Linked DNA regions of Homo sapiens: all the other regions are linked to region 1. Evidence: fine-mapped expression QTL. A gene starts in region 1. Each other region holds a variant in brackets. All regions are shown on one strand. Distances are from middle to middle.

Region 1 (4,056 bases):
AGGTCAAGGGCCCAGAGTTACGCACACCAGATGCCGGTCTTTACCTGCCATGTCCCCAAGCCAAAGGCAGTCACAGGGATGAGGAGCAGGACCCACTGAAGAAAGGAGTCATCTTCCGCTTTTGTGGCAGATGCTTCTGCTGCAGAACTGCCACATCTGCTTGGCCTCCAGGCCACCCCTGGAGAGTTTCACAACACTGACATGGAGCCAGAAGCCCTCGAACACAGACCTGGAGCAGCCCGTTCCAAGACAGACTCCAGTACTGCCAATCAAAACCTGCTGCCTAGAGCCAACTAGCAGCACCTGTATCCAGCCCAGCTCCTAACCCGGTGCCCAGAACAAGGCACACACAGTACGTCTGCCAAGTGAGTAAGTGGGATCTAGGGCTCAGTGCCGGTTTGACCACCAACCACGACCCTGAGTAACTCATGCCTTTTTACTCAAGAATCTAGATGTATTCCACTGCACTAAGATGCACCATTCATCCATTCAAAATGCATTTAATAAGCAGCTACAGTTGGCCGGGCACGGTGGCTCACGCCTGTAATCCCAGCACTTTGGGAGGCCAAGGCGGGCGGATCACGAGATCAGGAGTTCGAGACCAGCCTGACCAACATGCAGAAACCCCATCTCTACAAAAAAATGCAAAAATTAGCTGAGCACGATGGTGCTTCTGTAATCCCAGCTACTCGGGAGGCTGAGGCAGGAGAATCGCTTGAACCTGGGAGGAGGTGGTTGCTGTAAGCCGAGATTGCGCCACTGCACTCCAGCCTGGGCAACAAGAGCGAAACTGTCTCAAAAAATAAAAAATAAGCAGCTACAGTTACTAAGTAGCTTAGTCAGGCACTAGTGGTTGTTGTGTTATGTAGAAAAATATATCAATTCAGTAATGGCTCACAGAGCTCTCTTAACAGCTTTCCATTTTTACAACTCATCGTAAATGTAAAGAGGGAAGAATGTACACAGAAAGTGCCTTTAAGCTCTCAGAGGATGAGTTCCATCCGCTGAAAAGCACCAGGGGCCTTGCGGATACTATTTTTTTTTTTTTTTTTATAAAAAGGCAGGCCTGGGGCAGGCTTGCACAGCACTCTACACACGGCAAAACAGCCCTGTGCTGCACACTGAGAGGAACACGTAAGCCGCGGTGGTTAGATACGCTTTACTTTCAGAGCCCTGGGCTTTCAGCCTGGGCTGGCCACCCATTAGCTGGATGGGACGTTCGGAAGTAACTCTCGAGCCTTCTCTGTAACAGGGGAACGACCAAGGAGCTACCTCTCGCGTTGTGAGGACAAAGCGCTCGCTACATGCCCGGCACACGACCACAATTCCACTGAAAGCATTTTAATACGGAACTTGTCACTCCCAGGGAGCCTCCGCTCAGCCGGCAGTTGGTTCATTTCAATCCCCACGACAACCCTTCAAAGTGCAGGGCAGACAGCAGGTGGCTCTGCCCAGGCGCCTGGATCACAGCCCGGCCTGCAGCCCTCACCTGGGCGCGGGGAGACCCTGAGGACGCTCCTCCAGGCGGCGCTGGCCGGGGCCTGCGGACACGGACGGGCGGGCTGAGCTCCGGGACCCCTCCCCGCGCCCCGCACCCCGCACCCCGCACCCGGCGCTCACCCGTCCCAGCCCCGCCGCCCGCAGCCCCAGCTGCAACGCAGCCACCGCCGCCATCGCACCCGGCCCCGCGGGCGCTTCCGGGACGCAGGAAGCATCTGCATCCGGGGCGCCGCTGAGTCCCGCCCAGAGCCCCGCCCCCGGCTCCAGGTTCTGCGAGCGGCTTCCGCCGGGCTGCTCCGCGGGCGCGTCGGCCATGAGCGAGTTGCCGGGCGACGTGCGGGCGTTTCTGCGGGAGCACCCGAGCCTGCGGCTCCAGACGGACGCCCGCAAGGTTCGCAGCGCGGGAGGGGAACGGAGTGGCGGAGAAGGGCGCAGTTGGGATGAGGGGCTGAGGGGAGGGCAGGGGAGAGGAGAGGGCAGGGGAGAGGGGAGAGGGGAGAGCAGGAGAGAGGGGAGGGCAGGGGAGAGGGCGCGGCGGGATCAGGGGAGGAGAGGGAAGGGGGCGCGGCAGGAGGGGGCACCAGGGAGCGGAGCCCTGGCCCTCCTGACGTCCTGCCCGCCCACGCGTCCGCAGGTGAGGTGCATCCTGACAGGTCACGAGCTGCCCTGCCGCCTGCCGGAGCTCCAGGTCTACACCCGCGGCAAAAAGTACCAGCGGCTGGTCCGCGCCTCCCCGGCCTTCGACTATGCAGAGTTCGAGCCGCACATCGTGCCCAGCACCAAGAACCCGTAGGTGGTCCGCGGCGGCGCGGGGAGGCCCAGGGCAATTAGGACAGCCCCTCCGCTGGACTCCGCCAGTGCTGCAGCCCCTACTCTTTCAGAGTTGGGAGCCCTGGGACCCAGGTGGGCGCCCGGGTGCTGGAATCACCTGCGGTCCCAGCGGCGAGGCCTCTTGGTGAGCTCGTTTGCTCACCTGAGGTTTGTCCTGTGGGGTGTGGCTGCTTCCCAGATGAGTAGAGGCTTGTGATTTGTCACCTGAGGTTGTGAACAGCGTTGGGTTCTTCCCTTAACCCCAGAAGGGGTCTTTGATTTAGCTGGGAGCTAGGCTTTGTAATAATCGTCAAAACAGAGATAGGATGTTTCCATTCATTGAGCCCTTGCTCCAGGTGGAGCCATCCTCTTGCATGAACTCATCCTGGAGCAGTCAGTGAGGCTGCCATGCGTGCTTTTCCGGTAAACATTAAGAGGCTGCAGTCGGCCTGGGTCAGACGGTTCCCCACCCAGCTTCAGAGTGGAATTGCTCCGGGAGCCTTTAAAAGCCCGATGTCCAAGCCGCATGGTAGACTGTCCAGGGATGAGTCCAAGACACAGCCACCAGTCTGAATCCTTGCTGTGAACTGTCCCTACAAATTTGGTCTCTCTGCTCTGTAGGCACCAGTTGTTCTGCAAACTCACCCTGCGGCACATCAACAAGTGCCCAGAACACGTGCTGAGGCACACCCAGGGCCGGCGGTACCAGCGAGCTCTGTGTAAATGTAAGTCCCAGTGGACCCCCATCAGTGCATCGCCATCTGAGTGCATGCCCGCCTTGCCCCAGATGGAGCGTGCTTGAAGGCAGGTCGTCCTTCAGCGATCCGTGTTGATGCATCAGGCCTGTTTTTTGGCACAGTGAAGAGAGGGATGATGGCCCCTGACCCCACAGCTTTTAGTGCAGGCAGGCACAGAGCCAGAAGCAGGCTCGGGAGTGAGTGAGTGTGCGTGGCAATGCGAGGTGTGAAAGAAACTGGGCGAGGGATGTGGGGTGGGCTTGCGGAGACAGGAGGGCTGGGGAGACTCGCTGAGGGATTCGCTCGAGGCTGAGGCTGGAGGGATGTGGTGGCAGTGGGGTCGGGGGAACAGCACCCCAGGGAGAAGCCAGGGTCCATGGAAGTCTGAGGCAAAAATGTGTTGGCTGAGGTAGGCTCCAAAGGACTGGCTGGGCTAGTGTGCACAGCCCGGATGACCCAGAGACCAGGCCAGGAGCACTGCAGTGGGTGTGTGGAGAGGGTTGGGTGGGGGCTGCATGGACAGTGTGCATGGTTGAGAAGGGAGGACTCCTTGACTGCGGTCATCCAGGAAAAGACGGTGGGTTTTGGGGGGAGAATTCAGAGTCCCTTTGAAGGTTTTAAGCTTGAGCTGTATTAGGAAAGGTGTGTATTAGGGAAGTATCGGGCTTTTGAAACAGGGACACCCGTGCTGGATGAAGGAGATGGTTGCACCGTGGATCTGGGTGAGCACCCGGCGAGAGTTTAGAGAAGGGAGAGAGGCCTGGTCCTGAGCCCCAGGAAGAGGCTGGAAGTCCTCCCGTGGTACTGAAGGGAAGATGAGGACAGAAAAATGATAGATTTGATAACACAGAGGCCCCTGGCAACCTTGGTGAGGCACCTGAAGCTTGGCAGGGACACCTGGCTAGAGTGGAGCGTAGGCTGCAGCCCATGAGGGCAGTGTCCGGCCTTAGGCAGGTGCTGGGTCACCAGAAAGCCTTTCTGGAGTCCAGCTAAGGAGGGAAATGGACAG
Region 2 (4,064 bases), 110 kb before region 1:
TGGTGTCTCTCTGACTTTCTCCCTTTGGACTTTCTGGTAACTCTGGCCCTCCAGGGCAGCTCTGGTACTTGGGAAGCCTCTAGAAAGACTTGGGCAGAGGCAGCGATGGCCTAGGCCCACTCAACCCAGAGAGCTCTGAAGACACGCCCTGCCTTCTGGGAGAACTGCCTGGTGCCTCCTCAAGCAGATCCTGGGGGGCCCTGTGTGGGGGTCAGTTCCCTGTCCTCAAGGAGCTCACTTTGACTCTGGGGCAAACCTAGTGTGGGTGGTCGGCATCAGCCATTGTCCATGTGGGGAGACTGAGGATCAGAGGGGCACATCCAGCCTGGGAAAGCCAGACCACGCGCAGCTCTTGGCATTGTCTTCACCTGCTCCGTCAGCAACACCACCCCCTGGGGGGCAGCTGGGTGACCCCCATCTCACAGCAGGGGAGACAGGGCTTCGAAAAGCCCCTGTGCAAAGCAGAGCTGGGACTTGAGGCCACCGGATTTGGTGCAGAGGAGACAGCTTGGATCCAGGGACAAGCTCTGCCAGCAGGGAGGACAGGACTGGGTGATGGGAGCTTAGTTTTGGAATAAAAAAATCTGCAAAGGAGCCTATCTGTCCAGTAAGCACCACAGAAACAGAGTTCCCAGTGGCAGCCACCATTCCTTGAGGGCCTCCCCTGTGTCTAGCACTTTCCAGAGTTTTCTCTCTGATTCCTCCACTCAGACCTAGTAGGGACAACTGCAGGGCCTGGGCTGCAATGGTGGGGCTGGGCTGCAGTGGTGGGCTGGGCTGCAGTGGTGTGTCTGGGCTGCAATGGTGGGCTGGGCTGCAGTGGTCGGGCTGAGCTACAGTGGTGGGGCTGGGGTGCAGTGGTGGGCTGAGCTGCAGTGGGTGCAGTGGTGTGTCTGGGCTGCAGTGATGGGCCTCAGCTGCAGTCGTGTGTCTGGGCTGCAGTGGTTTTTCTGGGCTGCAGTGGTGAGGCTGTGCTGCGGTGATGGGGCTGGGCTAGCGCTTCACGTGTGGGTCTCTCACGCCTGGTAAACCAAATGCCCTGCAGCAAGGAGTCCACACAGGAGCCTGCCAGGGGCGGCTGCTGATGGCTCCGGCTTCTGCACCACTTGCCCGGGGATGTGGGGGCTCCGTATACCCTAGTATTGTTACCAGAAAGGAGTCCCAGTCCAAACCCCAAGACAGGGTTCTTGGATCTCAGCTGAGTATACTTATACTGATTTCTGGATTATAGGCTCAACAACAGGTGGATTGTTTGTGAGTTTTCCAAGAAAGGGGAGGGGATTTTTCTGAACTGAGGGTCCCTCTCCTTTTTAGACCATATGGGGTAACTTCTGGACGTTGCCATGGCATTTGTAAACTGTTGTGGCACAGGTGGGAGTGTCTTTTAGCAGCTAATGTATTATAATTAGCGCATAATGAGCAGTGAGGACAACTGGAGGTTCCTTTTGTCGCCATCTTGGTTTTGGTGGGTTTTGGCTGGCTTCTTTACTGCATCCCATTTGATCAGCAGGGTCTTGGTGACTTGTATCTTGTGATACTAATCCTGCCAACCTCCTATCTTATCCTGTGACTAAGAATGCCTAACCCCCTGAGAATGCAGTGCAGAAGGTTCAGCCTCATTTTACCCAGTCCCTATTCAACATGGAGTCGCTCTAGTTCACTCGCCTCTGACAGTGATGATCTATCCTTTACTGGGGCTCAGCCTTCACCCACTGAGGGGCCCTGGATGGAAGCATGTGTTTGCTTGGTGGGGATGACAAGTCGAATTTCCCAGCCCCTGTGATCCAGAGGCTCTTCCAAGACACCGGGACTGGAGAGGAGTGGGGGGCCTAGATGGGGGTGGGCACGAGAGGCTGGTGATGGCTTCAAGAGGGGAGGGGCACACTTGCCAGGAAGAGGCTGAGTGCAGCAGAGAGCAGCGGGACTGACATTTGAGGCAAGGGTCCTGTGGAGGGAGGAGGGAAGAAGTTG[G/A]AGAGTGATGCCTGGAGGCCAAGGTGGCACCACTGGGCCCTTCCGCAGCTCCTGGGGGGAAACTGGGTTGGGCCCAGGTGAGCAGGAGGGAAGGGAGGGTTCACCCTGGGAGTGCAGGATGGGTGCTGGTTTAGGGTGAGGACCTGGGGAAGCAGGAGAGGTTAGGAGAACGACCACGCTGAAAGTGAAACCGCCTTTGCAAAAACTCTATCAATTAGAAAAATTGTAAGAGTGAGCTGAGCTAACCCGCCCCTCATCTTTCCTTTCCCTTAATGATTCCTGGGCTTTTGGGCTGAGCTAACCTTGGGAGACATTTAATTTATAGTTTAAATAACAGCAGGCCTCCCCCAAAACTCTTCTGCCTGTGTAAACCTAATGAAAAGCTATGAGGCGAGAGGGAGAAGCTAAGGTGTAGACCTCTCTAGCAAAATACACAATTTCCCCAACTGTAGATTGGTCTTTTGAGATATCTTTTCAGGTTTTTTGCAGGTCTGATACCCATGGCTCTACCTGGAACCCCCAACCTCACTCCTGTGACACCCCCCTAAGAAGCGATTTAGCCTGCAGGAGGACAGCTTTGACCCTCCATGAGTTCATGTCTGCCCCAGCCAATCAGTACCTGTTACTTGGCCACCCCTGACCCCCCAAACTGCCTTGAGAAACCCCTAGCTATGAGCCTTTGATGAGATGATTTGAGTACAAACTCTCTCTACCATGTGGTTGGCCTCATGTCTATTAAACTCTTTCTTTACTGGAATGCATGGTCTTTATTTAGAAAGGGAGCAGGAGGAACCCCTTGGGTGGTTACAGAGGGCAGGATGAAATCCCTTTGAAATGAGCAGTACAGAACTCCAAAGGAAGAGATGGGGTCTGTGTGTTTCTTCTGCCACCTGAAATAATTGAAAGGTTCAAAATCCAATGTTATAGAGTTTATTCGAACTCTAAGTTTGACGACCACCACTCAAAAAACACAGACTCTAAAGGAATGGGCTCAGTGCTCTGAGGTGGAGGGATTAGGGCTTCACTTAAATGGGAAAATACAAGGAGGTTTAGCATGATTACATTTTCCACATAAGATTGGCTTATGAGTTGCAGCAATTTGTTTGGTTATATCCTGTTCCCTTCGGGAAAAGTATATTTAACATACTGTCTTATGGAATTTGATAGGCATGGGGTCTTTTGTACCATCTGGTCTGAGTTGGGTGCAAGAAAAGAAAGAAGTTAATTCGTAACAAAAGGTCAGTAACTAAGAAAGGGAAGGGGTCTTACATCTGGTGCCATTTAGTCTTTCATAACATTTTACAAATCAAGAAAGGAAGAGCGTTAATCTATAATTGGAGAAGCAAAGTTCACAGCGACTTGCTGCTTGACTAGGGTGTCAGAATCACATTCTTTCAAGGCTCGAAGTAATTTAAAGTTCCAACAGCTTTAATCTGATGAGCTTATTGTCGACAAAAAGAGTCAAACTCTGAAAAATATTTGAAGAGATTTATTCTGAGCCGAATCTGAGTGACCAATGGCCCGAGACAGAGACCTCAGGAGGGCCTGAGAACATGTGCCCAGGGTGATCTGGGCACAGCCTAATTGTATACATTTTAGGGAGACATGAGACATCAATCAAATACATGCAAGATCCACATTGCTTCTGTCCAGAAAGGTAGGACAACTCGAAGGTGGAGCGGGGAGGTTCCAGGTTATAGGTAGATTCAAAATTTTTTTATTGGCAATTGGTTGAAAGAGTTATTATCACTAGAAAGGAGTGTCTAGGTTATGATAAGGGGTTGTGGAGACCAAAGTTTTATCATGCAAAGGAAGACTCCAGGTAGCACGCTTCAGAGAGTATAGATTGTAAATGCCACTAATCAGACTTAAGGTCTGTGTTAATGTTCATGCTGGTCAGCTTTGCTGAATTCCAAAAGGGAGGAGGACATAAATGAGGCATGTCCACTCCACCTTCTCTTCACAGCCTGAACCGGTTTTTCAGGTTAACTTTGGAGTGCCCTGGCCAAGAGGAGGGGTCCATTCCGATGGCTGGGGGAGTGGGCTTAGAATTTTATCTTTGGTTTACACTACTTTCAAGCTGCGAACATCAT
Region 3 (4,064 bases), 32 kb after region 1:
GGGCTCTGGCCAGGGCAGGGTCCTCAGAGGAAATGGGTCTGAGCTGAGCCCTAAAGGGTGCATAGTTATCCCTATGAAGGGGGTGGGTAGTGGTCCAAGCAGAGGGGTCCATGTGTGCAGTGGCCAGGGGACAAGTGCAGCTTTTGGGAAAGTCCAAGTAGCTTGGTGTGGATGGAGTGTGGAGTGGAGGTGGAGCCTGGGAATGGGGAGAGGAGAGAGAGGAAGCTGAAGGTGGGGCAGGAGGGGCTTGTAGCCCCCTCCAGTGGGCAGTGCTCCCACGGCCACTGCAAATGGCAGCTGAGCGCAGGGAGGCCCTGGAGCAGGTGAGCCTGCAGAAGCACCGGGGCCTGGGCGTCCTTTGGCTAAGGGCCTCCTGTCCCAGCAGATCTCTTCTCTGTACCTCTGCCTGGTGATGGAGTTCAATGAGCTCAGCTTCCAGGAGGTCATTGAGGATAAGAGGAAGGCAAAGAAAATCATTGACTCTGAGGTGAGGTCCTTTGGGGCACCAGGCCTGGGGGCCACCTAGACCTGTGACACAGGCCCTGCGGTGCAGGGCAAAGTAACAGCGGGAGGGCAGGCACCATGGAGTCCAGCCTTGTTTTTTTCTTAAATGTGTGCCTCGAGGCATTGCACTCTAGGTAATGTGTGCAGATCTTAAGTGCACAGTTTGATGCACTCACACAACTTCCACCCAGATCAAGACAGAAGGCGTTCCTAACACTAGAAGGTTCCCAGTCGGTGACCATGATTCCAGATTGTTCTGCCGGTCCCTGAAGTTCCTGTAAATGGACTCGTCCGGCATGCTGCCACTCCTGTCTGGTCTCCTTCCCTCAGCCTGCTGTTGTGAGCCCCGCGGTGCTGCTGCATGCACCAGCAAATCATGTGTTCATTGCTTGCTGCCACTCTGCTGCCTGATTGCGCTGCAGGCTGTTTACCTAGTCTCATTTGGGCTGCTTCCAGTTTGGGGCTATTGTGAATAAGGCTGCTATGAGCATTGCTGGAAGACACTCACTTTTCTGGGATGAATACCTAGGAGTGGAATTATTGGGTCGTAGAGTACATGTGTGTAGCTTCAGTGGATGCTCCAAACAGATTTCCGACTTGGTTTGGTTGGCCCCATGTTTACTCTCACAAGTTGTGAGCATTCCCGATCCACATGGAGGCCAGCACTTCATTGTGTCAGTCTTGTTGTTGTTGTTGTTGTTGAGATGGAGTCTCACTCTGTCGCCCAGGCTGGAGTGCAGTGGCACGACCTTGGCTCACTGCAACCTTCGCCTCCCTGTTCAAGCGATTCTCCTGCCTCAGCCTCCCAAGTAGCTGGGACTACAGGTGCCCACCACCACACCCACTAATTTTTGTATTATTAATAGAGACAAGGTTTTGCTATGTTGCCCAGGCTGGTCTCGAACTCCTGACCTCAAGTGATCCACCCGCCTCGGCCTCCCAGAGTGCTGGGATTACAGATGTGAGCCGCCGCGCCTAGCCAGTTCACTTTCTTAATGATGTCTTTTGATGATGGAAAGTCCTAACTGTAATGGAGTTCGCTTTCCCAATGCTGACTCTTATGGTTAGTGCCTTTGGAGTTTAAGAAGCATTTCCTGCTCCAAGATCATGAAGATACTCTCCTCTGTCTTATGGAAGCTTGGTTATTTTTGCCTTCACATTTAGATCTTTCATCTACCCCAGATGAATGCTACCTGCTTTTACCCTGAGAACTGTGTTTGGGGGGACCATGTACCCCTGAGGGGCTCTTCGGGGCACACAGCTCTTCTCTTACCATGGGCCTCAGAGGCAGGCCCGGAGTGAGTTTCAGACTTTGTGAGTGAAGCCCTTCAAAACACGAAATATTCCCAGAAACCCAGTAAGTGCAGCAGACCTACTCTAACTGGGGGCAGTGGGAGGACGCCCACATCCTGCCCCCTCAGCCCCTCTCTGACACCCCAGGGTGGCCCTGAATCCAGGGGCCCTAGGAGCCCAGCTTTAGAATCACCGCGCTGGGTACTCGATGGAGCTTGTCTCTGATGCAGAACACTCCTAGCATTCTCTCTCAGGGCTCTTTTCATTTGAATGACCTAGAGGATTGAGCTCATGTAGGCACTGAAGGCTTCCACCTCTCCCATACCCGCAAGGCCGATCTGCCTTCAGCTCCCAGCAAGTGTGGGGCAGCGCGGGCCACAGAGTAGGGTGCAGGGATGGGGCCCCTGCAGCACCCAGGGTCTCTGGTATGGAGACAGCAGTGTGGAGTCTGGAAACTCAGAGTCCTTCTGGCTGCCGCCGCGGCTTTACCATCTGGAGAGCCACCACGCTGAAGCCTCCTCCACCCTGAGCGCTTGGCTGGCTTCAGGCCTGTCTCAAGATGCAAGGAGAGGATACACCACCATCCTGCTGGCTGCTCTGAGTGTCACCCCCCTGAAAGCAGCACAGGGTGCCCCTCCCATCCTGGCACCCCCTACTTCTCCCCCAGTGGATGCAGAATGTGCTGGGCCAGGTGCTGGACGCGCTGGAATACCTGCACCATTTGGACATCATCCACAGGTAAGTGG[G/A]GCCCCTGACCTCTGCGGACTGGCTGGCTGCTTCGGGAGAAAAGGCACTGAGGCCACTCGGGTGCCAGTGCCCGTGGGCAGGATCTGGGGAGAAAGGTGCACCGGGCCAGTGCAGCCAGGATAGGATGGGACCTTACAGAGCTCCTCCCGGGCTTGAAAGAGGCTCTTCCAAGTGGTCTCAAGCCATGTGCACACGCACAGCTGCATGGGGTGTGCGCTAGCCAGGCGGGCTGCTCTAGAGTTCGTGGAAAGGAAGGAGGCAAAAGCCCTGCCAAGAAGAGAGACCGGGTTGCCTGCCGTGGGGCCAGTGTGGGCTGAGTGGGCCCTGCTGAGCCTTTGACCCCCAGCGGCACAACTTTCAGGCTGGAGAATCCATGGTCTGAAGGGGCTGGGAGATGGCTCCAATTCTGAACACCAATATCTTATTTAAAGAGGAAGAGGGAAACTATGCAGCTGGGCGTGGTGGTGCACGCCTGTGGTCCTAGCAACATGGAGGCTGAGATGGGAGGATTGCTTGAAGCCAGGAGCTTGAGGCTGCAGTGAGCTATGATCGTGCCACTGCACTTCAGCCTGGGCAACCCTGACTTAAAACACACACACACACACACACACACACACACACACACACACACACACACACACACACACCACGCAGACCATACGTACAAAGGGAATGCTCACATTCCACATCCAGTGTTCATGTCACTAGACGTCGCACAATGGCCAAAAATCAATCCCCAGGCAAACGTGTAGCTGAGATATCTAAGGAGGTGAATGTGTCAATTAAGGGGCCTCTTCGGAGTGCTGGGTGTGTTCCTACTTGTGGTTGAGGATTTTTCCCCCGATTTAAAATAATTGAGTATATTTCTGTACATAGGAAACAACTGCTTAAAAAGTAGGCTGAGATGGGGCATTTTGTGGAGGAGAGGAGGATGTGGGCTGCTGCTGCAGAACCAGGTGGGGCAGGGAGCAGAGAGTCAGGCTCAGCACACACACTGGTCCCACCTGGGGTTGTGGGTGGTGGCTGCCCAGGTGGCCCCTTGGCATCCAGAGGCAAACCCACCTCTTGGTTTCAGGAATCTCAAACCCTCCAACATCATCCTCATCAGCAGTGACCACTGCAAACTGCAGGACCTGAGTTCCAATGTGCTAATGACAGACAAAGCCAAATGGAATATTCGTGCGGAGGAAGGTGGCAGGGGCTCCCCCAGGTTGTGGGAGAGGGGGTTGGCGCCTAGAATCCAGGCGGCGTTGGCCACTCTGGGTGCTGGAGTGAGGCAACATCAAACAGCTGTTTGCTCAGAAGGTCCCCACAAAGCCCTGGCCTTGTGTAAACTCCAAAGAGACCTCCTTTGGGTTGCAACTGAGCAGGCGTGCCACCACCAGGGCAGAGGCAGGGCCCCACAGACACCCAACATTTGAGAGAAACAAAGTCGTGGTTGTTTGTGGTACCCCAGAAAATGTTGCCTCTCATGGAGGGAAAAGAAAGTGTCAGAAGGAAGGATATGAAAATGCCCAGGA
Region 4 (4,061 bases), 71 kb after region 1:
GCACTCAGCACAGGCTGCCTGACTACTTCTCTGAGCCTCAGTTGTCTCATCCCTAACACGGGCTAGTCATAGGGTTGTTAGGAGGACTAACTGGGAAACAAACCGACCGCAGTCAGCACCGTGCCTGGTTGGGGTGTCCTAAATGCAGGCTTTGCTGTGGGTCCGCAGGGTGCTCCAAATATCACAGCCAACCTCACCTCGTCCCTGCTGAGCGTCTGTGGGTGGAGCCAGACCATCAACCCTGAGGACGACACGGATCCTGGCCATGCTGACCTGGTCCTCTATATCACTAGGTAGCCGAGCTTTCTGATGGGTGCTGGCCAGCCAGCCTGGGAAGGCTGCTCCCTCAGCCTCCTGCCCTCTGCAAAGGTGACCCCAGGGCAGGCACGTGCCTTGGCACCACCCAAGTGACTGTTTTCTCTCACCGAGGTTTGACCTGGAGTTGCCTGATGGTAACCGGCAGGTGCGGGGCGTCACCCAGCTGGGCGGTGCCTGCTCCCCAACCTGGAGCTGCCTCATTACCGAGGACACTGGCTTCGACCTGGGAGTCACCATTGCCCATGAGATTGGGCACAGGTATGTAGCCCCACCAGCTGTCCCCAGGATCTGGCAAGGAGCTGACCTGGGTACCCAGGGTGGAGGTGGTCTTGGCAAGCAGTGGGTCCTTGTAGAGTTTCTCCAGAGGAGCCTGTACCCCTCACCCCGACAGACTCAGGTGTGAGGACAGGGGAACCTGATACTGTTTGATTAAAAGAACTTTTTTTCCAAAAGACGAGCAAGACACCTTTAGCAGGTAGAAAATAACTTCTGTAGAAAATTCAGGTAAAGAAAGAGCAGGCTGTAAAAATTATCTCAAATCCCACCATTTAGAGATAATGTCTCTTCACATTTTGTATTTAATTTCAGTCTTTTCTTTACATACACACACATATTTCTTATTTGCAAAATTGGGATTTAGTTTGGATCCCTGAAAAAAAGGAAAATTGTGATTATGCTGTGCATTGCTTTGTTACCTGCTATTTCTTTTTCTTTTCTTTTCTTTTTTTTTTTTGAGATGAAGTTTCGCTCTTGTTGCCCAGGCTGGAGGGCAATGACGTGATCTCAGCTCATTGCAACCTCCACCTCCTGGGTGCAAGTGATTCTCCCACCTCAGCCTCCCAAGTAGCTGGGATTACAGGCATGTGCCACCACGCCCAGCTAATTTTGTATTTTTAGTAGAGACAGGGTTTCTCCATGTTGGTCAGGCTGGTCTCGAACTCCCAACCTCAGGTGATCCACCTGCCTCGGTCTCCCACAGTGCTGGGATTACAGGCGTGAGCCACTGCATCCAGCCTTTCTTTTTTCTTCCTAGGGTAAGTGCAGGATTTACCTGTTCTTTATGTAATAATATATCCCAAACATTATCCCAGGTATCTTAGAGGTGTGCACCGTAATTTATTTAATCAGTCCCCTCTTCTTGGATGTCTAGGTTGTCTGAACACGTCTTCCTGTTGTGAATGTTATGCATTCTTGTGGGCAAACCTTCACTCTTACCTATAACCATTTACCTAGAGTGATGGGTTTCTTTTCATTTCTTTAGTTTTTTAAGTATGAAAATAATACCCAATTGTTGTAAAAATTCAAACAGTGCAGAGATTTCTAAAGTAAAAAGTGAATTTCCACATTCCTTGCCCACCAACCCCCACCCGACCCCTTTCAACCCCTCTGAGCCTGGGAGGGTTGAGGCAGGGTTCCTGGGTGTGGGACAAGGCAGGGCTCCTTCTCCCTCAGAGGGAGCATAGTTCCCTTCTGCTCCTGTGATGCAGAAGACGTGAGCCCCCAAACTGGGGCTTAGCCTGGGAGGGTTCTTGGCTTCACCGAGGAAAGAATTCAAGAGGGAGCAGGTGGTGTTAGACAGCAACTTTGATTGATGTGGCAGTGGGCAGAGTGTACAGCCCTGTGACTGTATACAGCACAGCATAGCCCCTTTTGAAGCCAGGCTACCCCATAGACACTGTGCCCAAAAGAGCAGCTCAAAGGCAGGGCTGCAGTCCTAGTTAATACCCACTTCTAATTATATGCAAATTAAGGGGCCAGATTATGCAGAAATTTCTAGAAAAAGGGCAGTAACTTCTAGGTTTTCGTCATGGAAAAGGGGCAGTAACTTCTGGGTTTTGCCATGGCAATGGCAAACTGG[T/C]ATGGCACACTGGTGGGCGTGTCTTATGGAAAGGGGCTTCCCACCCCTCCCTGTTTTAGCTAGTCCTCTGGTCCAGTGTCCAAGCGGGGCCTCCAGAGTGGAGTCCACCTCCTACCTCACCGGTGCCTGGCCTCTCCCACCCCATTAGGAGTCCTCCATCAGTTCCGCTTTGGGTAAAGCAAGCTCTGTTGTGACAGTTTGGAAACGGTTCACCTTCCTGGCCTAGGAATGCAAACAATGGCCAAGGGCAAGCACGTTTTAACTGAACTTTAAAATCGTGCTTTCCTCACAGTAGGTGAATTTCACGCTCAACACATCCATGTAAACAGTCCCCAGAGCAGCCCTTCAAGGCCCCGGCCAGTCCCCACCTCCCCACAGACTCCTAACACCATGATTTAATGTGGCTTGCACATTTTTAAAGGCTTTTGATATTTATTAGCAAAAGATGCGAGAGCCACCCTGCTGGGCTAGCGCTCCCTTCTGGGGGAAACTGAGGCAGGGCGCACGCGACCCTCTCCACTGCGCCCAGTTAGCAGATGGCGGCGTCAGGGGTCGACCCGGGTCGGAAAACTCGCTGGCGCTGCGGCACTAGGGCGCCGGGCCGCTGACTCGCCGACCCCCGTCCCGCCCCCACCCCCGCCCCCGCCCCTGCCGGCCGCCTTAGCGCAACTCCCCGCCCCCCGACCAGCTTCGGCCTGGAGCACGACGGCGCGCCCGGCAGCGGCTGCGGCCCCAGCGGACACGTGATGGCTTCGGACGGCGCCGCGCCCCGCGCCGGCCTCGCCTGGTCCCCCTGCAGCCGCCGGCAGCTGCTGAGCCTGCTCAGGTAGCGGCCGCCCCGTGGGAGGGGCGCGCGAGCCTCCAGCCAGCCCGCTGGGCCGCCAGCGCCACCTCTCTCTACGTCCGTCCCCACTCCGCATTCAGCCCTCCTTCCTGTCCCACCCCTCCGTCCAACCCACCCCTCCGTCCAACCCCGCGCCCACCGCTCCGTCCGTGGAGGGGCGGGCGCGCGAGCCTCCAGCCAGCCCGCTGGGCCGCCCGCGCCACCCCTCCCTACGTCCGTCCCCACCTCTCCCTACGTCCGTCCCCACTCCGCATTCAGCCCTCCTTCCTGTCCTACCTCTCCATCCTGACCCACTCCTCCGTCCAACCCCGCGCCCACAGCTCCGTCCCATCCCGCTGCGCCCACTCCTGCGCCCACCCCTCCGTCCCAACCCCTGCACCCACCCCCCCGTCCCACCCACCTGCCCCACCCCCTGCACCTCCCCCCGTGCTGTCCCACTCTGCGGCCACCCTTCTGTCCAACCCCTGCGCCCACCGCTCCGTTCCACCCCCTCCCTGCGCCCACCCCTGCGTCCTCCCTCGCCCCCTTGCGCCCACACTTTCGTTCCAGCCAATCTGGGCACGCACCCCTCCGTCCATCCCCATCCCGCCCCTTGACTCCACATACACTCCCTGGTTCTCTCCCACTTGCCTACACCCACCCCTGCATCCTACCCTCCTCCATCCACCCCTCCATCTCAGCCCCCTGCACCCACCCCGTTCCTGGGCCCACCCTGTTCCTGCACCCACCCCCTCACTTCACCCCCTTACCCTTCGTCTGCCTCCACCCGCCCCTACCCCTCCGTCCACTCTCCACGCTCCATCAGTCCCACACCCCTATCTCCCCCACCCGCGTACATGTATCCCTGCGTCCCCTTCCCGCCGACCGCACCGCTCCCGGGCCTAACCTGCATCTGCTCCATCCCACTCAGACCCGTCCCTCCGTCGCCGCTCCCTCTGCTGGCCACCCACCTCTGCGCCGGCAGGAGCCTTAGTCTTGGTCCCAGCCAAGAGCCGGCTCCTGGTGGGGGGCGCGGGCCGAGAACTCCTGTTCCCACTCACA
Region 5 (4,064 bases), 34 kb before region 1:
TTCTTGTTGCTCCTCTTTCAGGCCTGGGTGTTTGGGGAGCTTCATTCTCTCATTCCACAGATATGCCTGCAGTGCCCCGCCTGGCCTGTGCTGAGCCTGGTCCAGGTTTGTTGAATGCAGACGTGCTCAGAGAGGTCATTCCGGCTGCTGGTCACTGGGAACTCCGTTGCATCTGCCTCGGGCCCAGGTGCCCCCCTTTCACTGGAGCATCAGCGAAGAGCAGTCACCCCCCTCCCCGCCCTGGGTATGGCAGGCCCAGGCTGCAGAGCTTTCTTCGTGAAAAAGGAGCTAAACATGATCAAGATCTTGCCACGGCCCAGGCAGGAGTCTCACCACACTGCTGGTGTCATCTCATGAGACTGCACAACAAACCTTCGCAGCAGGTCCCCGAGTGTACCCTTTCACAGCTATGGACAGGACCCAAAAGTCTGAGTCGAGCGTGTGTGTCACTACCCTGTATGTGGATTCACAGCCTCTGGCTATCTTAGAAGGTCCTTCCCCCATGGCCTGGCTCTGCCCGTGAACCGTTGAATGTCTCTGCTCCCTTTGCCACTTCCGCCTTCCTGATACTGGGGAACCAGGTCATCTCTCTACTCTTTCCTGGAATCTTCTCTTTTCCAAGGATCATGGTGACTGAGAAACTGAGGAGCTGCACAGGCCCAAGACAAGCCCTCTCCCACCAGCCCACAAATGTACTGCCCATGGGCCGGGCATGGTGGCTCATGCCTATAATCCCAGCACTTTGGGAGGCCGAGGCGGGCGGATCACCTGAGGTCAGGAGTTCGAGACCAGCCTGGCCAACATGGTGAAACCCCATCTCTACTAAAAATATAAAAATTAGCCGGGTGTGGTGGTGTGCACCTGTAATAGCCACTCAGGAGGCTGAGGCAGGAGCATCGCTTGCACCTGGGAGACAGAGGTTGCAGTGAGCTGAGATCGCACCACTGCACTCCATTCTGGGTGACAGAACAAGAGTCCATTTCAAAAAAATAAAAAATGTACTGTCCATGTTTACTGATGACTTTATGTAGTTAGTGGATCCTGCCAGCACAGCCACAGTTCCTGCTGATCTCTGTCCCGCAGTTGACCACCCCGTCTGTGTTTTTGCCCCAGCCTGTATTGCTGGGCTTGAGTCTTCTGTCCTCACGACCCTCACCGGGGACTCAGACACAGCCCTTCTGCTCTGGGGACATGTCAGTCCTTGGCCTGAGCGTCCAGGCTCTGCGCGGCCCCGTTGTCCTTACAGGGACTCCGTCCCTGGGGAAACTTCCCACGTGTCAGAACCTTCCCTTCCTTTGTTTGAGAAAACAAAAAATTCTTCCTCTCTTGACCAGGAGCAGTGGCTCACGCTGGTAATCCCAGCACTTTGGGAGGCCGAGACAGGAGAATTGCTTGAGGCCAGGAGTTCAAGACCAACATAGCAAGATCCCATCTGTTTATAGATCTATATCTATGTATCATCTCTCTATATAGTACATGTAATATGTATATAATATATAATAATCATATATATAATTCTTCCTTTTTTGCGGGGGGAGGGGGTTGGAGTCTCACTCTGTCACCCAGGCTGGAGTGCAGTGGCATGATCTAGGCTCACTGCAACCTCCCCGTCCTGGTTCAAGCGATTCTCCTGTCTCAGCCTCCCAAGTAGCTGGAACTACAGGCATGTGCCACCGCATCTGGCTAATTTTTGTATCTTTTTTTTTTTTTTTTTTTTGAGATGGAGTTTCACTCTGTCGCCCAGGCTGGAGTGCAATGGTGGGATCTCAGCTCACTGCAACTTCCGCCTCCCTGGTTCAAGTGATTCTCCTGCCTCAGTCTCCCAAGCAGCAGGGATTAGGCGCCTGCCACCACACCTGGCTAATTTTTTGTATTTTCAGTAGAGATGGGGTTTCACCATGTTAGCCAGGCTGGTCTTGAACTCCTGACCTCAGGTGATCCGCCCGCCTCGGCCTCCCCAAGTGTTGGGATTACAGGCGTGAGCCACTGTGCCTGGCCAATTCTTCCTTTCTTGAATGCCCTTTTCTGCCATCCTAATTTTCCCATCGTTCAGGGTCAAGGTTGATGCTCACCTTCCCCAGTAAGCCCTCCCTGATGTCTTCCCAATTCCTGTGGGGTAAGCAGGGCAGCTCAGTGGCTGAAGGCACATGCGTCACAGCCAGGAAGCCCTGGTTTTCGCTCTGACCCCACTGCTTCTGGCTGACCCTGGAGAAGCCAT[C/A]CACGCTGAGCTGCAGAAGGGCCACTACAGCCTGTGTGCAGCCCTCACAAGGCGTATACGGGAATTACTGCAGCGATACGGGGGATTCCTCGAGGAGCTCACTGAGCATGCAGGTGTTACACCCCAGAGCGCGCTGAAATCATTCAAATGAGCCAAGCCTAAGCCTCCCTACCGCCTCGCCCACCCCCTCCCATGGAAACCACATTACGGGCTTCACCCACAGTTCTGCCCTCTCCTGCCTCCTGACCGACTCCAGCACTTCCCCGTGTGGCCCTGTGTGGCTTGGGGTACCCCTTCTCCTGGAAACTGTCGTAAACTATCCTTTCAATGGCAATTATCTCCTGATCTGGTGGCCTTACTGAACCTCAAATTTTCAATAAATACGTTGTTTTTTAAGCCAGGCTTAATAGCATGCACTTGTGGTCTCAGCTACTTGGGAGGCTGAGGTGGGAGGATCGCTTGAGGCCAGGAGTTTGTGGCCGCAGTGCAGTATAATTGCACCTGTGAAGAGCCACTGCACTCCAGCCTGGGCAACGCAGGGAGACCCTGTGTCCAAAAAATAATTATTATATTTTAAAGACAAGCAGACTATGCATGGAGTCCCGAGGGTGAACAGGTGTCGGGGGGCAGCGGGAGCGTGGAGAAAGCCGGGAGGAGGTGGGAACAGGAAACCCTCAGGGTCACACCCCAGAAGGAGAAGGCCCTAGCCTGAATGGGACTGCTGGGAAGGGGCTGAACACCAGCAGGGAGTGGAGCTGCGGAAACACACACGGAAGTGGGGCATGGGTGCTGGGTGGACACTCCACTTCCAGATAAGAGGGGATCTTGTGGATGGTGGTGGAGGCGCTCCTGGCCCTACTGGGCTCCGGCACTCAGCCTGCCCTGCCACAGAGGCAGCCCATACTAGAGGCTACTGCACGTCAGGAGAGGGGCAGGCTCAAAACCAGAAAAGTTATACTCTGGGCTCTGCCAGCCCCACCCTCCCAATCCAGGAAACCCAATTCATCCAAATATGAGTATCAATATCCACCCAAAGATACCAGAGGGAAAAAAGAAACCTAAAAGGAGCGGGTGGCCAGTGCAGTGCTCACTCCTGAATCCCAGCACTTTGGGAGGCTGAGGCGGGAGGATCGCTTAAGCCCAGGAGGTCAAGACTGCAGTGAGTTGTGACTATGTCACTGCACTCCAGCCCAGGCAACAAAGCAAGACCCTGTCTCAAAAACAAACAAACAAAAAGGGAACAGCAAGACTTCCCTGCAGATGAAGAAAACACAGAGAAAACCACTGCCACAAAGCCAAGTGAAAGTGGCAAGCCAGCGGGCAGCCCCATGATGCAGCTGGGGAAGTGGCCAGGGGAGTGGCTGCAGCGGAAATGGCCATGGGGAACTCTGCGGCCCCAGGAAGAACAGGTGGACAGGTGCTGGTGGAACTTAGGAAGGACTGGAAGCAAAGGCCACAGACACAAGTCTAGAGATGCTGTGGAAAGTGCAGCCAGGAAGAAACAGGGACGTGAAGAGGCACAACAGCAGCAGAGCAAGCAGGCAGGAGAGGCGGTGGCGGGGGAGGCAGCAGCAGGGGAAGCAGCGGTGGGGAGGCAGCAGCAGGCAGGTCCTTGGCTGGCAGGGCAGAGCCAAGACAGGACAGACTCCAAGGTAGAAGTCCAGACAACTTTGCTAAAACAAACGAATTGAGGCGGAGCATTACTGCTGAGCTTTGCCTCCTGTCAGATCAGCGGTGGCATTAGATCTTCATAGAAGTGCAAACCCTACTGTGAACTGCGCATGCGAGGGATCTAGGTTGCTCACTCCTAATGAAAATCTAATGCCTGATGATCTGAAGTGGCACA
Region 6 (4,064 bases), 93 kb before region 1:
ATAAGGGAGCAAGTAAGCACACCCTCCGCCAGAGCTGGACGCAGGCAATAACTGTCCTTAGGACCCTGATAACTGTGATACTTGGGGAGCTCAGGGAGGCCCCATGGGTCTGATTGGCTGCTGTGGTCACTTCTCCCCAAACCAGGCCAGCCTCGATGGTCAAATGTGTCTTACCCAAACAAGACCAAGACAAGCATTATTAGGAAAAGGATCATAGGTCGAAGTGCGTGGCATTTTGGTTTTCCTGGAAAACAGGAGTAGAAAAATCACATCACTCACCCTCCTTCTCTCACCTGCCCCACTTTACCTGTCCCGCCTTGTAATTCAGGCATCACACCCTGCGACGGGCCTTCATCTGCCAAGATGGTCCCTCTGCCCCACAGGTGATGCTCTGAGCCCCACCTGAGCATCTCCAAACCCAGTCCAGATCTGGCCCTCCTCCCACTCAGAGAAGAGGGAGGCGGTCTGCTCCTCCCAGCTCATCAGCCCGACTGCTCCTGCAGACTCTGAGAGCCACCCCGGCTTCCCATTGACCTCCTTCCACTCAGCACCCCCTTCCCCTGGGAGACCGGAATGAACCACACTGAAATGAGCACGTCGAGGTCACTGTCGAACCCACCGAGGGAGGCCAGGACAGCCTCATGGCCAGGCTGAGCCAGGAGCCCAGACCAGTTCCTGCCAGGGAGAGGAGCCACCAACTTCCCCTAGTATCTCCCTGCTGTCTCAGAGGCTCATGTTCTGGAAACAATCATTGTCTTTAAGGTGATTTTATGTATATTAAAGTCACGTACAGTAGTTCCCTTATCCACACCTTCGCTTGCTGGAGTTTCAGTTACCCATGGTCAACCAAAGGCCAATAATAGGTGAGTACAGTACAGTAAAATATTTTGAGGACAGGCATCGTGGCTCGTGCCTATAATCCCAGGACTTTGGGAGGCTGAGCCAGCAGAATTGCTGGAAGCCAGGAGTTCTAGACCAGCCTGGGCAACATAGTGAGAACTCATTTCTATCAAGAAAAAAAAAAAAAAAACAATTAGCTGGGCATAGTGGTGCATGCCTCTGGTCCCAGGAGGCTGAGGTGGAAGGATCACTTGAGCCTAGGAGGTGAAGGCTGCAGTAAGCCATGATCACACCACTGCACTCCAGCCTGGGTAACAGAGCAAGACCCTGTCTCTTAATAATAAACAAAACTACAACAACAAAAAACCCACAAACTAAGATATATACACATTTTTTTTTAGAGAGACCACATTCACGTAACCTTTATTACAGTATATTGTTTTTGTTGTTGTTGTTGTTTTGTTGTTGTTTTTGAGATGGAGTTTTGCTCGTTGCCCAGGCTGGAGTGCAAAGGGGCACCTTCGGCTCACTACAGCCTCCGCCTCCCGGGTTCAAGCAATTCTCCTGCCTCAGCCTCCCGAGTAGCTGGGTTTACAGGCGCCCACCACTACGCCTGGCTAATTTTTTGTATTTTTAGTAGAGACAGGTTTCACCATGTTGGCCAGGCTGGTCTCGATCTCCTGACTTCAAGTGATCCACCCGCCTC[G/A]GACAGTATATTGTTATAATTGTTCTATTTTACTATTAATTATGGTTGTTAATCCCACCCGGTGCCTAATTTATAAATTAAACCCTATCATAGGTATGTGTGTACAGGAGAAAACATACTCTCTGTAGGGTTTGGTACTATCTGTGGTTTCAGACATCCACTGGGGATCTCGGAACCTATCCCCCGCAGGTAAGAGGGGACTATCGTTTTCACAAGGGCAAGCCTGAAAGGCGTCTATCTCCTGGCCCAGTTCCTATTCCTTCCCCCGAAATCAGTCCCTTTCAACTAATTCATCTGTTACTTCTTATCTTATAATGCTTGTGTGTGTTTACCTCCACCTTTCTAAGTCCTGTGACCACGGAGCGATTTATCTCGAATAGCTTCTTGAAACAGAAACGTGGGAGGCAAAACATTTGAACTTTACATGTCCTAAATTATTTTTTCCATTTTTGTAGTTGGTAGATCGTTTGGCTGTAGGGAAATCTTGGTGGAAATAATTTTCCTTCAATGTGGCAAAAATGGTTCCATTTTTTAAAACTTTGAAAATTAATTTAATTTGAGGGATAACTTACATCCAATAAAATGTGCCCACTTTAGGTATACGGTTTTGATGAGTTTCACACAATGTATGTACACATGTAATCACCCCAGTAAGGTCCCTCCTGACCCTGACAACCATGGATCTGATTCCCTGGCGTTTCCCATACACGGAATCCTCTGATACATGCTCTTTTATGTCTGGCCGCATCACACCGCATGCTGTTTTGAAGATTCACCTATATTGTCACGTGTATCAATCGTTCGTTCTTTTTCATTTCTGAGAAGCACGCCATTGTTAATCCGCCACAATTCATTTATTCTGTCTCCTATTGACAGACACTGTGGTTTTTTCACTGTTCGGGGCCACTAGCAACAAAGCTTCTGTAAACACTCATGTGCAGGTATTTGTGGACCTGTGTTTTCATTTCCCTTGAGTAAATACCAAGGAATGGAAAAGATGGGTCATATGGTAAGTGTATGTTTAACTTTGTAAGAAACTGTGTTCCAAAGTGGTGACTGAATTTTCCATTCCCGCCAGGAATGTACGAGAACCACAGTCCTTGCCAACACTTGATGGTCACTCTTTTATCCTTTAGCCATGCTAGTGGATGAGGAGTGGTATCTAAGTGTGTCCAATGACTAAGGAGGTAAATCATCTTTTCATGTATTTATTGGCCATTTGCTTGCTTCTTATGAAGCCTGTCCAGATCTTTAGCTCATTTTATTATTTATTTATTTATTTATTTACTTATATATATTTTTGGGGGGCACAGTCCCACTCCAGTTGCCCAGGCTGGAGTGTGGTGGCATGATCATGGCTCACTACAGCCTCGACTTCCTGGGCTCAGGTGATCCTCCCACCTCAGCCTTTTGAGTAGCTGAGACTATAGGCATGCACCACATCTAGCTGATTTTTTGTGGTTTTGGTAGAGATGGGGTTTCACCATGTTGCCCAGGCTGGTCTTGAACTCCTGGGCTTAAGCAATCCACCTGCCTCAGCCTCCCAATGTGCTGGGATTACAGGCATAAGCCACCTCACCTGGCCCTCTATTTTTATTTTTTTTAGACAGGATCTTACTCTGTCACCCAGGCTGGAGTGCAGTGGCACGATCACAGCTCGCTGCAACCTCGAACTCCTGAGCTTAAGTGATCTTTCCCCCTCAGCCTCCTGATTAGGTGGGACTACAGACATGCACCAACATGCCCGGCTAATTATTCTACTTTTTGTAGACACTGGGTCTCATTAAGTTGTTTCTCTTTTTATTATTGAGCAGAATTTATTTCTATATTTTGGATACAAGTCCTTTGCCAAATACAAATATTACAAATATTTTCTCGCCAGGCACAGAGAGACAGACACTGCATGTTCTCACTTATCTGTAGTATCAAAACATCGAAACAATTAAACTCATGGAGATAGAGAATAGAAGGATGGTTCGCAGAGACTTGGAAGGGTAGTGGCAGGGGTGAGAGGGTATGTAGGGATGGTTAATGTGTACAAATAAATAGAAAGAATGAATAAGACCCAGTATTTGATAGCATAACAGGGAGACTATAGTCAATAATAATTTAATTGCACATTTAAAAATAACTAAAAGAGAGGTCGGGCACAGTGGCTCATGCCTGTAATCTCAGCACTTTGGGAGGCCGAGGCAGGTGGATCACCTGAGATCAGGAGTTCAAGACCAGCCTGGCCAACATGGTGAAACCTCATCTCTACTAAAAATACAAAAACTAAGGCCAGGCGTGGTGGCTCACGCCCGTAACCCCAGCACTTTGGGAGGCCGAGGTGGGTGGATCACGAGGTCAGGCATTCGAGTCTAGCCTGACCAACACGGTGAAATCCTGCCTCTACTAAAAATACAAAAAATTAGCTGGGTGTGGTGGCGCATGCCTGTAATCCCAGCTACTTGGGAGGCTGAGGCAGGAGAATCTCCTGAACCTGGGAGACGGAGGTTGCAGTGAGCCGAGATTGCAC
Region 7 (4,064 bases), 140 kb before region 1:
CCTGACAACACAAAAAGGAAAGCTGCAGAACAATATACCTCATGAATATAGATACAGAAATCCTTTACAAAATATTAGCAAATAATAATATATAAAATTAATTCTACACCATGACCAAAAGCAGTTTATTCCAGGGATGGAAACCTGGTACAATACTCAAAAATCAACCATATTAATATGTTAAGAAGAAAAATTACATGATCATATCGATCAATGCAGAAAAAGTATTTGACTAAATTCATCACGCATTCAGGAAAACAACTCTCAGAAAAGTAGGAATAGAAGAGAACCTCCTTAACTTGACAAAGAGCATCTACAAAAAACCTATGGCTAACATCATTTCTCATGGTGAAAGACTGATGTGTAACTGGCTCAAGTCCAGCTGCTCGCTGCTCAGAAGTCAAGGCATGAGAAGTGAAGTGTGGTGAAAGGAAAGCAGCATTATTCAAATGCTAGCAGTAGAGGAATGGCCAGGCCCATGCCTTTAAAAGACCATTCAAACTTTCTGGACTGAGCGAAGGGGTTTAAGGAGGAAAAGGTGTGGGAAATATGTGGGAATGGTGCAGGAGGATGTTGGTCTGCATCTTGTTCCAATGGTTATCATGAGTCATTAATCGTCTGTCCAGAGGTCTGGTTTGAGTCATCCTGATTTCAGCCGGGAAGTGGTAGGCTACCTGTAACTCCCCCTAAGAGGGAGGATTCTGCAGCTGGGTCTCTCTGCCTGGTTTGTTTCAAAATTGGCCCCTGGAATTTCTAAGTAAGCACATAATTAGATAAGCGAGCACTGCTCACAGAAGTGCCTGGTGGGAAAGGGAGAAATAAAGAGTTTCGAAGTATGTTTCAAGGCTGAAAGCAAGAAAGGAAAAAAGTTTTTAAGCACATTTTGAGGCTGGGATACTCAGTTACAAACGCTTTCTCCTTAACATCAGGGACAAGGCAAGGATGTCCACTTTCACCACTTGTATTTAACATAGTACAGAAAGTTCTAGTCAGAGCAATAAAGGTTTTTTAAAAAGGAAATTAAAGACATACAAATTGGAAAGGAAGGAAGAAAACTGTCTGCATCTGCAGATGACATGATTGTCTCTGTAGAAAATCCCAAGAAACTGAAAAACAAAACAAAAGAAAACAATACACCTCCTAGAACTATTAAGCGAGTTCAGCAAGGTTGCAGGATACAAGATAAATATACAAAGATCAATTGTGTGTCTACATACTAGTAACGGACCCTAAACTTAAAAACACAATACTACTTATAGTGGCTAAAAAAAAGAGATACCTAGGCATAAGTTTAACAACCCATATGCTGGATTTGTATGCTGAAAATAATGCAATGATTATAAAATAAATCAAAGAAGATCTAAACAAATGGAGAGATGTGCTATATCCATGGATTAGGAGACTCAACATAATAAAAGCGTCATTTCTCTCAAATAATATAAAGATTTAACACAATTTCTATCAAAATTCCAGAAGGAATTTTTGTAGACATAGACAAGATTATTCTAACATTTATATGGAAAGGCAGAGGAACTAGAATAACTAAAACTTTTTTTTTTAAGAATAAAGTGGGAGGAATCAGGCTACCCTTTCTTTCCTTTTCTTCTTCTTTCTTTTTTTTAGAGACAGAGTCTTGCTCTGTCACCCAGGCTGGAGTGCAGTAGCACAATCTCGACTCATTGCAACCTCCACCTCCCAGATTCAAGTGATTCTCCTGCCTCCGCCTCCCAAGTAGCTGGGATTACAGATGCACACCACCATACCCAGCTACAGGCTACCCTTTCAAGACTCATTGTATAGCTAGCAGATGGACAGATGCATAGATCAATGGGACAGACAATAAAGAATCCTCAAACAGACCTGCACGCATATACCCAGTTAAGTTTTTACAAAGATGCAAAAGCAATTCAATGGAAGATAGCTTTTGTAGCAAATGGGCTGGATTAACTGGACATCCACAGACAAAACCACCAAACAAAAAGAAGAACCACAACCTTGGTCTCACACCCTGCA[A/T]GAAAATTAACTCAAAATGGATCATAGACTTAAACATAAAACTTAAAACTATAAAAGCTTTAGAAAACAGAAAGAAAATCTTTGGGATATGGAGCTGGGTCAGGAGATTTTAGATGTGTCACCAAAAATATGATCCATAAAAGGAAAAATTGTTAAAATAGACTTCATCAAAATAAAAACCTTTTGCTCTGTAAGAGACCCTGTTAACAGAATAAAAAGACAAGCCAAAGACTGAAAGAAAATATTGACAAACTACATATTCAACAAAGAATTAGTTTCTATACTTTATAAAGAATTTTTCAAAACTCAACAGTTTCAAAAATAGAACGTAAACAAAAGACATGAAGGGACACTTGACTAGAGAGGATATACAGATGGCAAATAAACACATGAAAAGATGCTCAACACCATTAGTCATCAGTGAAATGCAAATAAAAGCCATGATATATCAGTACATACCTATTAAGGTGGCTGAGATAAGATCATAGTGATCACACTGAAGCCTGGTGAGGATGCATGGAAACTGGACAGTTTCTGGAAAATGGCTTGACAGGTTTAAAAAAAAAAAACCCTGCAACAAGCATAGAACCCCGCAATAGAACCCCTGGGCCTTTGTCCCAGAAAAATGAAAACTGATGTCCATGCAAAAACCTGTACATGTGTCATAGCCCAAATCTATAAACACAGACATCCTCCAACAGGTGAATAGTTAAACAGACTGTGGTACATCCATACCATAGAGCACTACTCAGAAGTAAAATGGAATAAACTATTGATAAATGCAACAATGGGATGAATCTCCAGAGAATGATGCTGCACAGGAAAAAAAAAAGCCAATCCCACAATTTTATGATTGCAATAGACGACATTCTTGCAATGAGCAGATTTCAGGAGTGGAGAACAGGTCTGTCATTGCTGGGGTTGGGGCTGGAGCAAGCCAGGTGAAGATACACATGATAGCTCTGTGTGGCTTTTTACAACTGCATGGGAATCTACAATGTCTCAGGGTTAAATGTTTAATTTAAAAACCACAATAAGCATAAATGCTTAAAAAAAAAAAACCTAGAGCCAAAGACTCAGCAACTCCACTCAGAAGCATCATTTCAACAGATACACTCCCACACATGAACCAGCAGAAGGGTTCAATTGTTACTTACAAATCTTGGAAATGCCTCAAATTTCCATCAAAATAACAATGACTGAATAAAGGTTCATTTTTATGTTTGATTTTTGCAGACTTTCTAGATGCCTCTCATTCTTTGGGGCACAAGGAATACATCGATCAATGAAACAAATGTCCTGTGCTCGGGGGGCTTATATTCTAGGTGCAGGGGACTTAAAATGAACACAATAAATAAGTGAATTGCAGTGCCAGCTATCAATGTCTTGCCTCCAGCTCCACACGTACCCTTCATGGCCGGTTCCGAGGCAATGGAGCTGGAGCCAGCAGGCGCTTCTCTTGTGCACCTGGTGCAATGCTAAGCTTTGTTGGTTGAGGCGTAGGGAGAAGCGCCTCCTAGCATGGGTCCAGGATGACTGGTTCCAGATGCTTCCATTTCTTCCTTTTTCTTTCTCTTCCTATGCAAATGGCAGTGGCACAAGTCGGGGACGTCTGGCGGCACACACCACATTGAATTCAGGGGACCGCCCCCAGATGGCTTCCTATTGAGATTCAGTGGCATCTGCACCTGTGGGTTCCCAGTGACTCTTGCAGGCTTCCCAGCCCCAGCCCACCTGCCTTGGGTGGGGAGAGAGGCTTCCTGCTTGCCAGACCCAGCCTACATTTCCCTGCCTGCTGGCCTCTGCCCTGACCGTGGGCCAGCTGTGGCTGGGACAACCCAGCAAACTTCTCCAGCTTCCCTTGGGAGAACCACACCTTCTCCCGTGAGGTCTGAACCCAGACTTGTGGAAAGGATCCCCACCCCTGTTTATTTCTTCCTTAACTGCCCTCGTGCAATCCTGAGCCATTCTTTGTGGTTCTCTTTAAACCTCTAGAGCTGATTGTTCATTGTGCAAGCAATCCCTGTTCAATCTATTGTCTCTGGATCCTG

Evidence for each region. PIP is the estimated chance that this variant, and not a neighbour inherited with it, causes the effect.
Region 2: its variant is the best candidate, but not a certain one, in a credible set for the expression of SURF1 in subcutaneous fat (TwinsUK, PIP 0.88).
Region 3: its variant is the best candidate, but not a certain one, in a credible set for the expression of SURF1 in whole blood (TOPMed, PIP 0.61).
Region 4: its variant is the best candidate, but not a certain one, in a credible set for the expression of SURF1 in sun-exposed skin (GTEx, PIP 0.88).
Region 5: its variant is the best candidate, but not a certain one, in a credible set for the expression of SURF1 in adrenal gland (GTEx, PIP 0.52).
Region 6: its variant is the best candidate, but not a certain one, in a credible set for the expression of SURF1 in esophagus mucosa (GTEx, PIP 0.72).
Region 7: its variant is the best candidate, but not a certain one, in a credible set for the expression of SURF1 in left ventricle (GTEx, PIP 0.65).

The regions. Positions count from the first base shown.
Region 1 is chr9:133,354,780-133,358,835 of GRCh38, forward strand. It overlaps SURF1 (SURF1 cytochrome c oxidase assembly factor), which reads right to left and starts at 1,708. Exons shown (of 9, transcript NM_003172.4): 1 at 1,621-1,708; 2 at 1,490-1,541; 3 at 45-178. The coding sequence starts at 1,674. It overlaps SURF2 (surfeit 2), which reads left to right and starts at 1,771. Exons shown (of 6, transcript NM_017503.5): 1 at 1,771-1,891; 2 at 2,135-2,289; 3 at 2,932-3,035. The coding sequence starts at 1,814. RefSeq lists silencers at 1,510-1,629, 1,870-1,939.
Region 2 is chr9:133,246,956-133,251,019 of GRCh38, forward strand. It overlaps the pseudogene ABO. Among named protein-coding and RNA genes, the nearest start is that of OBP2B, 40 kb to the left of the region's middle. The variant G/A (reference allele first, on the strand shown) is at 1,972.
Region 3 is chr9:133,387,062-133,391,125 of GRCh38, forward strand. It overlaps STKLD1 (serine/threonine kinase like domain containing 1), which reads left to right. Exons shown (of 18, transcript NM_153710.5): 5 at 386-487; 6 at 2,465-2,535; 7 at 3,620-3,735. Among named protein-coding and RNA genes, the nearest start is that of STKLD1, 13 kb to the left of the region's middle. The variant G/A (reference allele first, on the strand shown) is at 2,544.
Region 4 is chr9:133,425,770-133,429,830 of GRCh38, forward strand. It overlaps ADAMTS13 (ADAM metallopeptidase with thrombospondin type 1 motif 13), which reads left to right. Exons shown (of 29, transcript NM_139027.6): 5 at 169-293; 6 at 430-576; 7 at 2,865-3,002. Among named protein-coding and RNA genes, the nearest start is that of ADAMTS13, 5.4 kb to the left of the region's middle. RefSeq lists a silencer at 2,964-3,033. The variant T/C (reference allele first, on the strand shown) is at 2,177.
Region 5 is chr9:133,320,502-133,324,565 of GRCh38, forward strand. No RefSeq gene overlaps it. Among named protein-coding and RNA genes, the nearest start is that of SURF6, 14 kb to the right of the region's middle. The variant C/A (reference allele first, on the strand shown) is at 2,219.
Region 6 is chr9:133,261,925-133,265,988 of GRCh38, forward strand. It overlaps the pseudogene ABO. Among named protein-coding and RNA genes, the nearest start is that of OBP2B, 55 kb to the left of the region's middle. The variant G/A (reference allele first, on the strand shown) is at 1,547.
Region 7 is chr9:133,213,915-133,217,978 of GRCh38, forward strand. It overlaps a transcript of OBP2B not described here. Among named protein-coding and RNA genes, the nearest start is that of OBP2B, 6.7 kb to the left of the region's middle. The variant A/T (reference allele first, on the strand shown) is at 2,014.